Linked DNA regions of Homo sapiens. The protein of the gene in region 1 purifies or fractionates together with the protein of each later gene. This does not show direct contact. Each region holds a gene or a part of one and is shown on either strand. Other genes may lie near its edges.

The links. Proteins that work in one complex are often made in the same cells at the same time.
Region 2: the proteins of PARN (region 1) and GRIPAP1 fractionate together in Homo sapiens (co-fractionation; one large-scale study listed by BioGRID). This does not show direct contact.

Annotation. Positions count from the first base shown.
Region 1 is NC_000016.10:14,580,381-14,585,839, reverse strand, and holds part of PARN (poly(A)-specific ribonuclease PARN), read left to right. Parts: intron 1-1,048; coding exon 1,049-1,091; intron 1,092-1,417; coding exon 1,418-1,493; intron 1,494-3,548; coding exon 3,549-3,659; intron 3,660-4,896; coding exon 4,897-4,966; intron 4,967-5,459. UniProt on the Homo sapiens protein: 3'-exoribonuclease that has a preference for poly(A) tails of mRNAs, thereby efficiently degrading poly(A) tails.
Region 2 is NC_000023.11:48,977,286-48,981,764, reverse strand, and holds part of GRIPAP1 (GRIP1-associated protein 1), read left to right. Parts: intron 1-73; coding exon 74-169; intron 170-292; coding exon 293-349; intron 350-450; coding exon 451-550; intron 551-3,329; coding exon 3,330-3,460; intron 3,461-4,479. UniProt on the Homo sapiens protein: Regulates the endosomal recycling back to the neuronal plasma membrane, possibly by connecting early and late recycling endosomal domains and promoting segregation of recycling endosomes from early endosomal membranes.

The DNA of each region.
Region 1 (5,459 bases):
ATCAAAAAATCACAGTTTGAACTGAGAGTGAAAGTAGACCAACGACTCCTTTTTTCTTATCTCTCATCTTGCTGTCTGAAGAACTGTTGAAGCCTCCTTGAGATGGCTCTTGTCTGTCTTGCATGTAGGATGTACCTTGTAACTATTGAAGTGTCCAATTGAGAGTGTTCAAGAGTCAGTCAAGAACTGTCCATCTGGCTAGAGATTTTGTTTTTCATCCACTTCAAGTCAGTGCCTTTTCCTGTTGGTGTTTTCCATAGTTATTATTGCCCCCTTGTTCTGATAGGTCATATGTCACATATCTCTGAGACATCATAGGTCAGCCATGTGGAGCCTACCGAACAAGTGTTTGTGTCTTAGGACCTGTTGAAGAGGGATAGGCGTGGTGTTCGAGCAGTTTCTCTTTCAGCTGGGCTTATTTCTGTCCTGTTACCCACTCTGTTCACATTTATATGAAAAAAAAAAAAAAAAAAAACAGAGAAATAGAGTTTTCATGTGGGTTTCTCCCCACCCTCCCCTTTTGGTGTTTCTGATCTCTGAAATAGAATAATAAGAAATAAAAACAACAGCGTGAAAGTACTGATTGTAGATTTTGGCCCTGCAGAAGAATTTATAGTTTACAAACCTGAGGAGTAGGAGTAGATGGTAGCAGTTTGGGAATGGTAGACCGGCAGCAGTATTTGAACCACGTAAAACCATGTGAGAGTATTTGACTCACCCTTGAGATTGATGGAGCCCAGGCTCTCTGAGGATCCAGGTGAATCTAGAACTTGTACTCCAAGTGTGGACTCTCCTGCAGTTGCTCAATGAAGTCGCTGATGATGGGACTGAGTACCTACTCCAACGTAGCAGGGATGCTGGTGCTGGGTTCAAAATGGCCAATGTGTTTAATTACTTTGTCTGTGTTTAAGTATTTTCTGTATTAAACATTTTATGTTTTAATTATGTTTTTTATGTATGAAGTATTTTAAGTAGCTTACATATTTGAGTAAAAGACATTTTAAACATTGATATACATTTTGTTTACCTTGTTAAAAATTCTTTTTAGACTCTTGGATACTAAATTGATGGCCAGCACACAACCTTTTAAGGTATTATTCATTTGCTACTTTATAAAGCGACTGCATATTACTGAGTGAAATGAATGCCAGAACAATATAGCCTTCTGGCAAAAGGTTTGGAGGTATTTAATGCATCTGTAAAGATCTTTATTCATTTGGTTATACTTTGTATATTATAAAAATTAAACTAGCTGCTTCTCTTTCACATTGAAAAAAACGAAGACTTCTGTGTTTCTTTAAAGAACACAAGGAGACAGTACTAGATGCTGTCTTTTTTTTGGGGGGGTCAGTGAATCTCTTTAATATATTGTTCTGAGATGATGAAATCTCATAATTCTTTGCTTCGTGGTTTGCAGGATATCATTAACAACACATCCCTTGCGGAATTGGAAAAGCGGTTAAAAGAGACACCTTTCAACCCTCCTAAAGTTGGTAAGAATATTAAACCGGAAACCCTCCAAACTCTTTGTAATAATTATTGATGTATATTGTAGAAGAAAAGCAGAATGGCTCTGGAGACCGTATTGTTCATTTATAGATTTTGGCTGAATTCACTTGCACGTACCGTGTGTTGAATTATTGTTTTTTGAATAAAGATGGTCTTTTAATTCTACATATATTTTATGTTAATGGAGTTGGGTAGCCATTCATTGAGAATTTTAGCAATTAAAGCTTCAAGGCTTCTATTTTCTAATAATATGGAATTCTCCTAAAACTTGATGTGCCCTTTTATTCTTTCATACATTATTGAAGCAGAGACAAAGAGCTAGTGATTAATCACCAGGGGTAGAGTAAAAAATATATTTTCCATCTCAGAAAAGCCCGAGAACTGGATTTACAGGTGAGATTAAGGCAAGTCCCCACCCTGCCTCCTTTTCAGCTGGTTTAGAGAGTAGAAACAGCAGCACTGAGGAAAACCAGAAGTAGGGAGATGAGATGGAGGTGTTTTGCCACCTCGGGCCACCACCAAGGTATGTGGAGAGCCTACCAGGTGCTACTTCCTTGGTCCCTGTTAACCTGATTGTGCTGCTGATACGGTGATTAGCGAGCCATTAGTTGTAGCCTGAAAACTTCTAAAGACATGGATAATAGGACTAATGGTTTAGAAATTGATAATGCAAAGTATTAAAGCAGCCAAGATTACAGTTATTTGCCCCTTTCTGGGTAATAGTCCAAGAAAGGAATTAAGAAAAGTGGTGGTGGGGCCATTGGGGGAGAAAACGTGGACCTTTTCTATAACAATATAATGGAAATAATTGATTTTGGAAAGAATGTGTCTCAGTTGATGATGGAGTGGAAGATATTACTTAGGTGGCTACCATGTTAAAAGGCTTTTTTTTAAAGGCATCAAGTCTAATATTTAATATGGAGTTAAAGAATTCTTGCTTAAAGAGCATTGTATTGACATAAAAACAGTTACAGCCTTTTCATTGTTAATTTCCATTTATGCTTTTGATTCTGTGTTATAGTAACCTTCCTGACATTCATTTCCAGAATGGTTCTAGGATATAATTATTTATGAGTTATAGTTTTATGTTATTATTTCCATATAAAATAGTGGTATCTGGTAGAGAATTCAGTCTAAAGCAGGTCATTCCTCTTATAGTTTATCTGGTCACATCTGTATTTATCAATGTCACAAAAGAACCATATTGTATATAAAGCGGTCTTTGCTGTAAAGTGGTTCCATGATCCAAGGCCAGCATTATAGCAAGTTCGATTTATTTTTGGAGTTGGTTGTGCTGTCACCTTTCGATCTCTAAGCTTGGGAACATAGTAGAGGACAGTAGTGAGTTGGAGCTGTTGATAGTGAATTGCAGTCTTCTCTTTTTTTGGGGGAGGGTTGCCTCAGGTATTGATAGATAACAGTTTTTGAGCACTTACTATGTACCAAGCACTAGGTAAGAGTTTAACTTATATTATCTTATCTGATCCTAACAATAACCTTTTGAAGAAGGTTTGATTATCATCTCTGTTTTACAAAACTGGAACCTTAGGGATGAAGTGACTTGCCCAAGGTCATACCGCAAATAAGTGGTGGAGCAGAGATTCGAACTCAGTGTGACTCCAGAGCCCATGCTCTTAATCTTTACTCTGGATCATCTATTGTGGCCTGATGTGACCATCTTGTATAAGGGAAGAATATCCTTTTCATGGCCTTAGAAAGCAAGCAGAAGAGGAATCATTGTCCTAGAGTGAGTTATGGATGATCATAAATAGCACCCACCAGTGTGGGACGAGAAAGCCCACGGCTGAGTCCTTTGTAATCTAACTGAGGCATTTCTGTATCCTAGACCAAAGCCCTCCTTTTCAGTGACTCTGTTATCTTGTATTTTAAGGTCTTATATAGAGAGAATTAAGGAATAGATAGCTTTTTTCTGCCTATTTAGGGTATTTCTCTAGCATATGCTAATGCAATTTTGATTGGTAGGGCAATGTGCTTACTAGTCTTTGTTTTGAGGAAAACTTTTTCCTTTTTTTTCTTAGAAAGTGCCGAAGGTTTTCCAAGTTATGACACAGCCTCTGAACAACTCCACGAGGCAGGCTACGATGCCTACATCACAGGGCTGTGCTTCATCTCCATGGCCAATTACCTAGGTACGCATTACATGTCTTTCAGTCAAACACGCAGTGATCTAGGGTGGATCTTACCTGTCTCCTGGCTTAGGCTGCTGTAATAAATTACTGTCGAGTGTGGGGCTTAAACAACAGACATTTATTTCTCATGTTCAGGAGGCTGGAAAGTCCAAGACCCAGTTGCCAGCAGACCTAGTATCTGGTGAGAGCCCACTTCCTGGTTTGCAGATGGCTGCCTTCTCCTGTCCTTACGTGGTGGAGAGCAGAGAGAGCAGAAGCTGTGCCGCCTCTTTTTTAAGAGTCAGGGTCTCACTCTGTCACCCAGGCTGGAAGTACAGTGGTTCAATCATAGCTTACTGCAACGCTGAACTCCTGGGCTCAGCCTCCCAAGTAGCTGGGACTACTGGTGTGCATCACTGTGCCTGGCTAACTTTTTAATTTTTTTATAGAGACAGGGTCTTGCTGTGTTAACCAGGCTGATCTAGAATTTCTGGGCTCAAGTGATCCTCCTACCTCAGCCTCCCAAAGTGCTGGAATTACAGGCTTGAGCCACCGCACCCAGCCTCCTGACCCTTCTTATAAGGGCACTAATTCCCTCGTGACTTAATTACCTCCCAAAGGTCTCACTTCCAAATACCATCGTACTGGGGAGGCTTCAACATATGAATTTTAGGGGGACACAAACATTGAACCTATAGCACTACCATTTCCTTGGGATCCACTCACCCAATTAAAAGTGGGAGGGTTTTGAGGTAGGAGTGGGAGGAGATGAGGGGAGGAGGAAATCTGCAAGAAAAACCACTGACACTTGCTGTGGTATGGTACTTGGTGCGTAAGAATACCTTTCACAGGCCGGGCGCAGTGGCTTACTCCTGTAATCCCAGCACTTTAGGAGGCTGAGGTGGGTGGATCACCTGAGGTTAGGAGTTTGAGACCAGCCTGACCAACATGGAAAAACCCTGTCTCCACTAAAAATACAAAATTAGCTGGGCATGGTGGCACATGTCTGTAATCCCTGGTCCTCGGGAGGCTGAGGCAGGACAATCACTTGAATCTGGGAGGTGGAAGTTTCAGTGAACCGAGATTGCGCCATTGCACTCCAGCCTGGGCAACAAGAGTGAAACTCTGACTCAAAAAAAAAAGAATACCTTTCACACTTGTTGAACCATGCTGTTAATTTAAATCTGTTTTGGTCTGAACTTTCAGGCTTGGTCTATGTGACTATGAATAATAATACCTCTCTTCTTTTCTTCATTAGGTTCTTTTCTCAGCCCTCCAAAAATTCATGTGTCTGCCAGATCAAAACTCATTGAACCTTTTTTTAACAAGTAAGTAATCAGAGAGTTCCAGTTTCCAAGTTCTCTCACTGTGGAACAGCCTCATATCTTGGGATGTCAGTTTGGAGTTATTGGGAGCTATAACACATTTTTAGATAAGCTGTTTTTCATCTCGAGTGACTCACATGTTTTTTGAAAGTAGAAAGTGACCTTTTGGGGAACAAATGTATTAAAAATATAGGCTTAAAAAAAAAAAAGAAAACATTGCTAGACGTAGTATAGTAGATCTCTTCCAAGAAAAAGAACTGGTAGTTCTGGCATTTAAATTTCCTATGAGGGGCCGGGTGTGGTGGCTCACACCTGTAATCCCAGCACTTTGGGAGGCTGAGGTGGGCAGAGTGCTTGAGGTCAGGAGTTCGAGGCCAGCCTGGCCAACATGATGAAACTCGTCTCTATTAAAAATACAAAAATTAGCCAGGCGTGGTGGCATGTGCCTGTAATCCCAGCTACTCGGGAGGCTGTAGTGGGAGAATTGCTTCAACCC
Region 2 (4,479 bases), on another chromosome or scaffold:
CAGACAGTGACGGGCCCTCCTGGGAGGACAGAGGCTTCCCAAGCCAATGCCTAAGCTGCTTTCTGCTTTGCAGGGCAAGGAGGAGGAGCTACAGGATGTACGGGATCAGCTCGAGCAGGCCCAGGAGGAGCGGGACTGCCACCTGAAGACCATTAGCAGCCTGAAGCAGGTCAGTGGTCACTGCACAGCCCCAGACACACCCCTGATCCTCAGCGTACAGGAGGGGCAGGGAGGGAGCATGCTTCAGGCAGCCCTTCCGGCATCTACCAGCCATGCCTGCTTTCTCCCACAGGAGGTGAAGGACACAGTGGATGGGCAGAGGATCCTGGAGAAGAAGGGCAGTGCTGCGGTAAGACAGAGCGGTGCCCAAGCACGGCTCCCTCCTACCTGTAGCCTCCCTCCTATGGGCCCACTGGGCCTCAGTCCTCATGTTACCCCTGTCCCCCACAGCTCAAGGACCTCAAGCGGCAGCTGCATTTGGAGCGGAAACGGGCAGATAAGCTGCAGGAGCGACTGCAGGACATCCTCACTAACAGCAAGAGCCGCTCAGGTGAGGGACTAGGACAGGGAGAGGAGGCTGAGGCATGGGGGAGGTAGGGCCTGGGCCTGCAGGCTGCAGGTTAGTCCTGCATCTTCCTCAGCTGTGCTTTCCTGCTTCTGTCGCTCTGGAACTCCATCTTTTACCTTTTCTCTGTCTCTCCTCTGATTCTTTCTCTGCATTCTCTCTTTATTTCTATCTTTCTCTCGTTTTTGCCCTGTCTCTTCTCTGTTTCTGTCTCTGCCTCTGTCTCAGTTTGTTCTCTCTCTTTCCTCTATGTTTGCCTTTATCTCCTTGCTTTCTTTCTCTAGTTTTCTCCTTTTCTCTCTCTTTTTTTTTTTTTGAGACAGAGTTTCGCTCTTGTTGCCCAGGCTGGAGTGCAATGGTGTGATCTCGGCTCACCGCAACCTCTGCCTCCTGGATTCAAGCAATTCTCCTGCCTCAGCCTCCTGAGTAGCTGGGATTACAGGCATGCACCACCACGCCCAGCTAATTTTGTATTTTTAGTAGAGACGGGGTTTCTCCATGTTGGTCAGGCTGGTCCCGAACTCCCGACCTCAGGTGATCCGCCCGCCTCAGCCTCCCAAAGTGTTGGGATTATAGGCATGAGCCACTGGGCCCGGCCCCCGCCCTTTCTTTTCTCTGTCCCTTTATCTCTTCCCGCCACTCTGTGTCCTCTTCGTCTCTTCTGTTTATATCTCTGTCTGTCTCCTCACTGTATGTACTACATTACACACTCCCACACCTCACTTGGCATTTCTAAATCTATTGTATACAATCTCTCATTCTATAAATCTCCCTGCTCAAGTACAGGGTCCCTGATATAAAACTCCCTGAGTCTCTGCCCTCTAGAAGCCCCCAGTTGAGCTACGGAGACAGACTTATACATAGTCAGCAACGCTGTGGTGTTTTCATTATACAGCTAATCCAATCTGTTATTTCTGCCACTTCAAGCAGAAGACACACACACACACACACACACACACACACACACACACACAACTTTAGTTGCTTCAGCCTTTTTTAAGACGGGGATGGCCTATAAATACATTTAAGTAAGTAAAATGCAGTGATGGCTCTGGTGCATCTCTTAGATTACAGACTCAGAGAAAACTTGGTCCCTTATTCCCCCACTCGGGATACCTACGGATCCCCACTCAGTCACCCCACCCTTGCCAGAGATCCTCGAGGGCTTTAAGTGATGTGGCAAAACAGATGTGTATCTCTCACCAAATCAATTTCTCTCTGAGGCACTCGGTCTCCTGAAGTAACCTTTCTTTAAAAAGGAGTTTTGTTTCTGTTTTATCACAGATGAATGTAAGAATCTTGGGAAAGGTGTAATCCCAGCACTTTGGGAGGCCAAGGTGGGTGGATCACCTGAGGTCAGGGGTTCAAGACCAGCCTGGCCAACACGGTGAAACCCCGTCTCAACTGAAAATACAAAAAATTAGCTGGGTGTGGTGGCGGGCGCCTGTAATCCCAGCTACTTCGGGAGGCTGAGTCAGGAGAATTGCCTGAACCCAGGAGGCAGGGGTTGCAGTGAGCCGAGATTGCGCCATTGTACTCCAGCCTGGGCGACAAGACTGAAACTCTGTCTAAAAAATAATAATAATAATAATCTTGGGAAACGTTACAATCGTATACCATACATTCAATACATTCACCTTGTCCATTAGATTAAACTGAGATTTAGGTGCGTGGGTACGAGAGCCTGCTTGCATTTCTTTTTTTTTTTTTTTTTTTTTTTTGTTAGACGGAGTCTCGCTCTGTCGCCCAGGCTGGAGTGCAGTGGCGCGATCTCGGCTCACTGCAACCTCCGCCTCCCGGGTTCACACCATTCTCCTGCCTCAGCCTCCCAAGTAGCTGGGACTACAGGCACCCGCCACCACGCCCACCTAATTTTTTGTATTTTTAGTAGAGACGGGGTTTCACCGTTTTAGCCAGGATGGTCTCGATCTCCTGACCTCGTGATCTGCCCGCCTCGGCCTCCCAAAGTGCTGGGATTACAGGCGTGAGCCACCGCGCCCGGCATCTTTTTTTCTCTCTGTCTCTGCTCTGGCTCACTTCTTTCACCAGGGTCTCAGTTTCTATCATCTGCTCTGGCTTTCCATCTCTGGCATTTTCTTTCTGCAAGTGGATGTGCCCTGTGCCCTCTCTAGCTGTCTTCCTTTCTCTGAACCCTGTGTCCAAGTGTGTCTGCCACTTGAGACCCATGTGTACCCATGTCGTTCTCTTTCTCCAACCTCTTCCATTTTCTCCCTCTCATTTTGTATGTGTTTCTCCAGAAAGGCAGCTCTTTCTTTTCTTTCTGTTTTTTTTTTTTTTTTTTTTGAGACAAGAGTCTCACTCTGTCACCCAGGCTGGAGTGCAATGGTGCGATTTCGGCTCACTGTAACCTCCGCCTCCTTGGGTTCAAGCGATTCTCCTGCCTCAGCCTCCTGAATCGCTGGAATTACAGGCACACACAACCACACCTGGCTAATTTTTGTATTTTTAGTAGAGACGGGGTTTCTTCATGTTGGCCAGGCTGTTCTCGAACTCCTGACATCAAGTGATCAGCCCACCTCAGCCTCCCAAAGTGCTGGGATTACAGGTGTGAGCCAGTGCGCCCAGCCTCAGCTCTTTTTTCTGTCTCTGTCTCTCCCTGTCCTCCTGTCTGCTTCTGCCTTTCCCCATGCCCAGGTGTCTCTCTTTCCATCTCTGTTAAATCTATTTCTGCCTCTTCCTGCTGGTTGCTGCCCTGGGACTCAGGGGTATTGGGGCTCAAGTTTCTCTTCCCTCCACCACCCAGGCCTTGAGGAGCTGGTTCTCTCAGAGATGAACTCACCAAGCCGGACCCAGACAGGGGACAGCAGTAGCATCTCCTCCTTCAGCTACCGGGAGATCTTGCGGGAAAAGGAGAGCTCGGCTGTTCCAGCCAGGGTAAGGGGAAAGGAAGAACCTACAGCTCCAGCTTCTCTCAACCCAAAAATCTGAGAACCCCTCCCCTTTTCTCCTCACCTAAACCCATCTCCTACTTTGGGCGCAGCACACATATTTTCTTGTCAACTTTTCCCCAAGCCCACCAACTTGGATTCAGATTGCGACATGCAGGACAGGCCAGTCATTCTCTCTCTCTGACTTTCTGTTTAATCATCTGTGGGCTAATTCCCCCTTCTCTGGTGCCATAAATTATGTGGCTCATAGTAGGTGCACCATCCAAGGAGAAGGTCCCTTTTTCCAACTTGTAATGATCACTAATTATTATTGCCGGCTGTCATGTCAGCCTCCTTACCAGCCACTTTCCTTTGGAAATAACTTTTTTATTGTTCCACAAATAGTATGTGCTCATTGTAGTACATTTTTTAAAAACCACAAATGAGCAAAGATTTTTTTAAAACCTTAAATGTCTGGCCGGGTGTGGTGGCTCATCCCTATAATCCTACACTTTGGGAGGCCAAGGTGGGCGGATCACTTGAGCTCAGGAGTTTAAGACCAGCCTGGGAAACGTGGTAAAACTCCGACTCTATTTAAAAAAAAAACAAAAACAAAAAAACCTTAAATGTCAAAAAAAAATAATATTTTCACCATCCAGACGTCACCATTATAAATTCTTAGTTCAGGGCTGGGCGCGGTGGCTCATGCCTGTAACCCTAGCACTTTGGGAGGCTGAGGCGGGCAGATCACTTGAGGTTAGGAGTTTGAGAACTGGCCTGGCCAACATAGCAAAACCTCATCTCTACTAAAATACAAAAATTAGCCGGGCGTGGTGGTGCGTGCCTGTAGTCCCAGCTACTCGAAAGGTTGAGGCAAGAGAATCGCTTGAACCTGGGAGGTGGAGGTTGCAATGAGCCGAGATCACACCACTGCACTCCAGCCTGGGCAACAGTGAAACTCCATCTCAAAAAATAAATAAATAAAATAAATTCTTAGTTCATACCCTTCCAGAATTCTCTCTCTTT